2 linked regions of the Homo sapiens genome follow. The protein of the gene in region 2 interacts with the protein of the main gene of each other region in a pairwise test. Each region holds a gene or a part of one and is shown on either strand. Other genes may lie near its edges.

What was found. The genes of interacting proteins can lie anywhere in the genome.
Region 1: the proteins of GSK3A (region 2) and ZDHHC17 interact in binary tests that used the Homo sapiens proteins (3 or more experiments, as listed by UniProt).

What each region holds. Positions count from the first base shown.
Region 1 is NC_000012.12:76,851,115-76,854,355, reverse strand, and holds the end of ZDHHC17 (palmitoyltransferase ZDHHC17), read right to left. Parts: 3' UTR 660-3,241; downstream 1-659. UniProt on the Homo sapiens protein: Palmitoyltransferase that catalyzes the addition of palmitate onto various protein substrates and is involved in a variety of cellular processes.
Region 2 is NC_000019.10:42,229,542-42,232,613, forward strand, and holds the end of GSK3A (glycogen synthase kinase-3 alpha), read right to left. Parts: coding exon 2,955-3,072; intron 2,609-2,954; coding exon 2,516-2,608; intron 1,327-2,515; coding exon 1,253-1,326; 3' UTR 649-1,252; downstream 1-648. UniProt on the Homo sapiens protein: Constitutively active protein kinase that acts as a negative regulator in the hormonal control of glucose homeostasis, Wnt signaling and regulation of transcription factors and microtubules, by phosphorylating and inactivating glycogen synthase (GYS1 or GYS2), CTNNB1/beta-catenin, APC and AXIN1.

The DNA of each region.
Region 1 (3,241 bases), on a different chromosome or scaffold from region 2:
GAGGAGGAAAATACTTGGGTGGAATGAAAACTAGCGGCTTTACTTTATACAGTTGTTCAAGATATTGTTACTTGAACTCCAGACTAAAATTATGGATAGAGTATTAGTCCAATTTGAAAATATTCCTGTTTAATACCACTGGGTTCTCAAACCATTAACAACCACTGGAACAACAGGAAACAGTTCCTTAATAATTTTTGCCTTTTAAAGTCCCAAATAAAGAAGTTCTCTCTGCCACGCATATCTTCTCAAGTAACTGAGATCAACGTTTGGTAGGTTTCATTCTGCAGTATTTTTCTTTATATAGTACATTTTGCAATATTTTTCTTTAGTATCTTTAGACATATTTAAAACTTGGAGATTCATACAGTCCCTGAGGATCCTAATTAACTACATGGAATTCAAAAATTCTTAAAAAATTTATTATCTTTATTTAAAAAAAAATTACACACACACACACATGCATACACACAGGATTGGAAATTTTTTTTTTTTTTTAGAATACTAACACCATCTTTTATTTTTCCAAATTCCTACAGTCTTATGCCACTTGACTCCTAGTTAACCAGGATATAAATGTATAATCTTTTCATATCATAGGTACCACTATCATTTCATCAATTTCCTGAAGTAAATTGAGTGAAATCATAAGCACACACTTAAGAGTCAGTATTTATTCTGATTAATATTTTACAAAATTTTGACATTTAATTTATGTAAGGAGGGCTAATTTATTAAACACTTTACAGGTTTTTCTTTCCACAGAATAACACGGTAAGTAGCAAAATAATACTTGGCACAGTTATAAATAAAGAAAATATAAAATAAAAACATCCATAGCTTAAGTACAATGATGCTGTTTTACGCCCATTAATATCAAATAAATTCCTGGAAACAACAAAAATATGAATGAAAAAAAACTCCAAGGAAGTAATTCATGTTCAGTGCTGAGAATTAAGTTCCTATTTGCTAAAAGTATCCAATTAAGTTGATAAGAACTATTCCCAAAGGTTCACCATCATACACAACTTTAGAACTGGGTTTATAGTTGGTTCCACACACAGGACCTACAAAATAATTAAACAGATGGTATACTGCTGCATAGCTGGCTCCTGACCATCTGACCATTTCTGAGTTATAGATTTCACAGGTACTACAAGATGGTTACTACAAAAGCATTCACATTGCTAGTATTTTCCATGTAATTACACATCTAGAGGTTTGTCTTTTTAACTGAATGACATCTCTTTTGCACTGAAAATATTGTACCACAAACAAAGAAGATGGTAACAACATTCTTAGCCAAACTCTGAAAAAACCACCATAGTCTTTAACTGTTGATAAAAATGTATTCGATAAAAATGCAACTGAGTCTTCATGTGAAGTGGCTCAAAATACAAAAAATTAAAACAAATTCTAGCATTTTATAAATAACTTTGAATTTAAAAATTATCTAAAATTTCCCCCAATTAGTAGTCAAAACTAGCTGACATTTGTAAAGTTAACCAATTTTTACATTCTATGACAAAATGGCACAATGCTATTGCCACCCCACACCCATCTCTTCCCTTTTCAAAAATAAAGTACATATGCCAATTTTCTAATATTAAAACACATACACTAAGGGTAATCTTTTTTTGATGTGTGACTTATGGTCAAATAAGCTACTATATAAAAATGGTACTTGGAAATACTGAACATCAACTATATACATTTCACTGCTCCTCTTACTAAGGCAAGGGGCGGGTATACCACTAGATTGCTTTAATACCTGTAATCTGCATTTTACAGGGAAGACTAGTTTTACCAAGCATCAGACATGCAGTGAACTTGCAGGGTATAATGCCTATTAACAGCAATTTTGAACATCACTAGAAGCTCATTAGTTATCTCCCTTTTCTTTTTGGTTGGACAAAATGAAATGAGCAGCTTTAAAAACACTAACACAGACACAAAGAGAAAACTATTTGATAAATTATTTATATACAGATACACATTCTTTACATTGGTCTAGGATCTGTCATCAGTCTGACCACCATTCCCCCACATCTCCCACCCCATTCCCTCTCACAGATTTCCCACAGGTTGCTCGAACCACAGTTTGCTACAGCACTTAAGATGAATAAACCAAATCTCACCCTGTAAACAATATTTATGGAAGCAGTGACTAGTAGTCCACCATGAAGGTATGAAAATGCTGTGACAAAAATTGATCAGTGCATCACATTTAACAAAAAGAAAATTTTTTCTAAAACTGTTTCAGAACTTACTCAATATTGGATAAACTGAAATACTCTTGGGGATGAAATTCTACTTTCTGATAGGTCATTTTATTGAAACCAGAATATACTGTCAGCTTTTCTTTTATTCACATGTGCTATGTACTTAGATCATGCTCCATCTTTAGTTAAATGCCATTATTTTGTCTACAATTATTTTGCAGCTGAGAATTTAAAAGGAAGTATATCCATGTATCACTATTACTGAGAATTTTGCATTATTTGTTCTGCCTTTTCTTGAAAATACCACCTTAACCCTTAAAAATGGAACTGTTTTTGAACATCAAATTAAATTCTAATTTATGCTTCACTGGATAGTATCTGCTAGTATACATTCTATGTGGTGTGTCATGCAATTAGCAGGGCTTTTAAATTTGAACAAAAAAACATGACTTACTATACTCATGCAAGTGCTTCATTATCAGACCGTAAAACCTCAGAGTAAGGTTACTACAAATTATTTCACTGAACTAGAAATATATCAGCATTGCAACAGCTGATAGAAACAAAACATTGTTAGCACATTTTATTGTGAACATTATTTTCTCCTGCCTTTGAAGACAACATCACAGTAGATCCCAATCACATGATTTTCATCACAGTATTTATGTGTACATTCTGAAATGTACATAATAACTAGTCAATCAACTTAAAACAATGCTCCTGGAATTAGATGCAATACTCGTACTAGACTGCATCATAACATTTAGCCAAATAACATAAATTTAGTTTTAGTTAAAACTGAACATTTCTGATCAGTACACCATGTCTGTCAATAGAATAAGTTTACCCTTTTTTTGTGAAAAATACTGTGAGAACAAAACCCAAAAGTTGAGTATGTTGTGAATTTCCACATTAAGAACCATTAAAATTATTTTTTATCATCTTTACTCTTCCCAGAAATGGCAGTGTGTTCTGTCCATGTTTACTTTTGTTAATAAAAGTGTTGAAAAAAAGACTGT
Region 2 (3,072 bases):
TCCGCCCATGCCCCACTATCTGGCCCCAGCATGTTTTAAGTGAGGATAAAAGTCAAGTTCTCTGTCCCCACCTTCACAGGGTTGTCACTTCCCAACATCCCTAAGAGGTGGACCAGGTAGGTGTCCTGTTTAAGACTTGGAAATGAAGGCTTGGAATCTTCTAGGGTTCCATCTCCAGCCATGGCCACCCAACAAAGAGTCTACAAGCAGGCTAAGTTTTGGCCTGAGTGACTCCTCATCATCTCATGTCCCCCCAGACCCTAGAGCAGCAGGCAGCTTGGGCTAAGACAGACGGCCCATTGTTCAAGTCCTGACTCTTCTGTCACTTAAGCTCCATGGCCTTCCCCTCTCTGATCCCCAGTTGGCTCACCAGTTACTGGGAGGTTAATCCCTCCCTCCCTAAGCAGAAGCAGATGATTTATGCTGGGTCATGGAGCAGGCTCCTCCTAGGCCTCTACAGCAGATAACCCAGATGGAGCTCATCACCACACGTGCAGAGAAAGCCACGGTGTGAGAAGGTTGGGCACCTGAGCCAGGGCCTTCGGACAGCCCTCTGCCTGAGATGCAGCTCACTCCCGTCCCAGAACAGTCCCCCCACCGGAAGCCCCCACCACCTCAGCGGAAACAGGCAGCCGGACAGAAAGCAGGTTTTCATGCCAATAATTTATTGAACGGAGGTCTGTACACAGGCAAACCTTACTGTGGAAACTAAGACATCAGGAGCTCTCTCCACTCCCCTGGCCCTCCAGGGTGGGGTGAGGAGGGAGTAGACCTTGGGGGCAGAGGACAGGAGGGGAGTTACAGCTGTAGGAGGGGCGGGGCCAGGTTGGACGGTGCGAATCGACGTTTTCTTTAAGAAAAAAATTATAACAATCTATTTACACCCGGGGGCCAGGGAAGGGAAGAGGAGACGGGCTGGGCTGGTTCTATTTACAAGGGACACAGGAGGGGAGGGGGTCTGGAGGAGGTGGAGGTCTGGGGGAGGGGAGGGGGCCAAGGGGGTAGGAGGTCCTCATCCCCCCAACACCCTGTCCTTCTCTTCCCTCCCCACAACCAGTTAAAATCCTCTTAAAAAGCCCACCACAGGGGTGAGGCTGGTGAGGGAGGGACTGGAGGTGGGGACAGGGACTCATTTACCTCTGCCCTCTAGTCTAGGGGCCCAGCCAGGGCAGGAGCTTGATGGGCTATGGCCCCCCTTCCCAGCCCCTCTTGGGGCTCCCAGATGGAAGTGGAAGGGTGCTTGGTGGGGCCCTCAGGAGGAGTTAGTGAGGGTAGGTGTGGCATCGGTCGACTGCCAGTCTGAGCTGGTCGGAGTCTCAGTTAAAGCTGGAGGGAGGCAGGGAAGGAGCAGAGTTAGCCTTTGCCTTTCAGACACCCCTTCGCCCAACCCAAAAGTAGGAATTCTCTTGTCATAGATGCTACATTAAAAGTTACAAGCTGTTACTTTAGGTGAAGGGTTGCAAACTCAAGTGCTAAAGGGCCACGATAGTAACTGAGTGACACACCAGAGTGCCAGGCTCCATATAAGGCGGTGGCTGGGCTGGGCACAGTGGCTCACGCCTGTAATCCCAGCACTTTGGGAGGCTGAGGTGGGCAGATCACAAGGTCAGCAGTTCGAGACCAGCCTGGCCAACATGGTGAAACTCCATGTCTACTCAAAATACAAAAATAAGCCAGGCATGGTGGTATGAGCGTGTAATCCCAGGTACTTAGGAGGCTGAGGCAGGAGAATCACTTGAACCCAGGAGGCAGAAGTTGGAGTGAGCCGGGATTGTGCCACTGCACTCCAGCCTGGGTGACAGAAAAAGACTCCGTCTAAAAAATATAAAGGGCGCCCACTGTCTACTGTCAGTAGGATGGGCGGGCCCATTGCTGCCCAATCTGATTTTCTTCCCCAAGAGAAACAGGAAATCTGAATTTTTACATAAAATAGCCCCATTTTTAAACGTGGACACCATGGCCAGGCACAGCGGTTCACGCCTGTAATCCCAACACTTTAGGAGGCCAAGCGGGAAAATCACCTGAAGTTCAAGACCAGTCTGGCCAACATGGTGAAACCTCATCTCTAGTAAAAATACAAAAATTAGCCAGGCGTAGTGGTGTGTGTCTGTAATCCCAGCTACTCGGAGGCTGAGGCAGGAGAATTGCCTGAGCCCAGGAGGCGGAGATTGCAGTGAGCCGAGATCGAGCCACTGCACTGCAGCCTGGGTGGCGAGTGAAACTCTATTGCACAAAAAAAAAAAAAACAAACTTGGGCAACGAATTCAACTTTTTGTTTGTGTTCAGGCCAGACGTTATTTCTCTGGCTTTCCCATTGGCATTAAACACATTTAAACATTTGTACGCAAGAATACCCTCTAAAGGTGGTCATTCACATGTTGTAAGATGTGTTTCCTATGCCATCAAAATGTCGATGATTTAAAAATACATTCAGGAAACCCAGTCACTGAGCGAACAGCCCCACCCTCTCCAGGCTGAGAGATACTTTAACCCCCAGCAGATGGTCCCCACTTACCTTGTGAGGACGGGGTGAGGGTGGTAGTGCCCGCTGGGGACCTCAAGTGAGGAGGGATGAGAATGGCGTTGAGAGACGGTTGGATGGAGAGTTCTAGAAACAGGAATTGACATGCTAGTCAGGGTAGACTACAGCAGGGTTATGATGGGCACCAAATGGGAACCCAGCTATTGGGAAGGCCAGTTGTTTGTGGACACCTTCAGCCACAGACCTCTCTCAATGAAAAACCAGAAAAAGCTTAGCACAAGGCAGATCACAGTAAAGCACAACTGAAGCAGGTTCGATTCCCCCTGAATCTGGGAGTCATCTTTCCTGAGCCCCAGGCCTGCCTTGTACCCTGCCCTTAGCTCCCCACTCCTGCTTCAACACCAAGCTCCTCACAATCTTTGGCTGCCCCCCTACCCCGCCCCACTCCCCAGATCCCAGGCTATGCCCTCACCACCAGCACTGAAGTTGAAGAGAGGGGGAAGTGGGCGGTTGTTAGGCAGCTGGGTTCCCAGACATCGCAGTTCATCAAAGAAGCTGTGCGCACAGGCCTCTAGTGGGGAGAGCCTTGA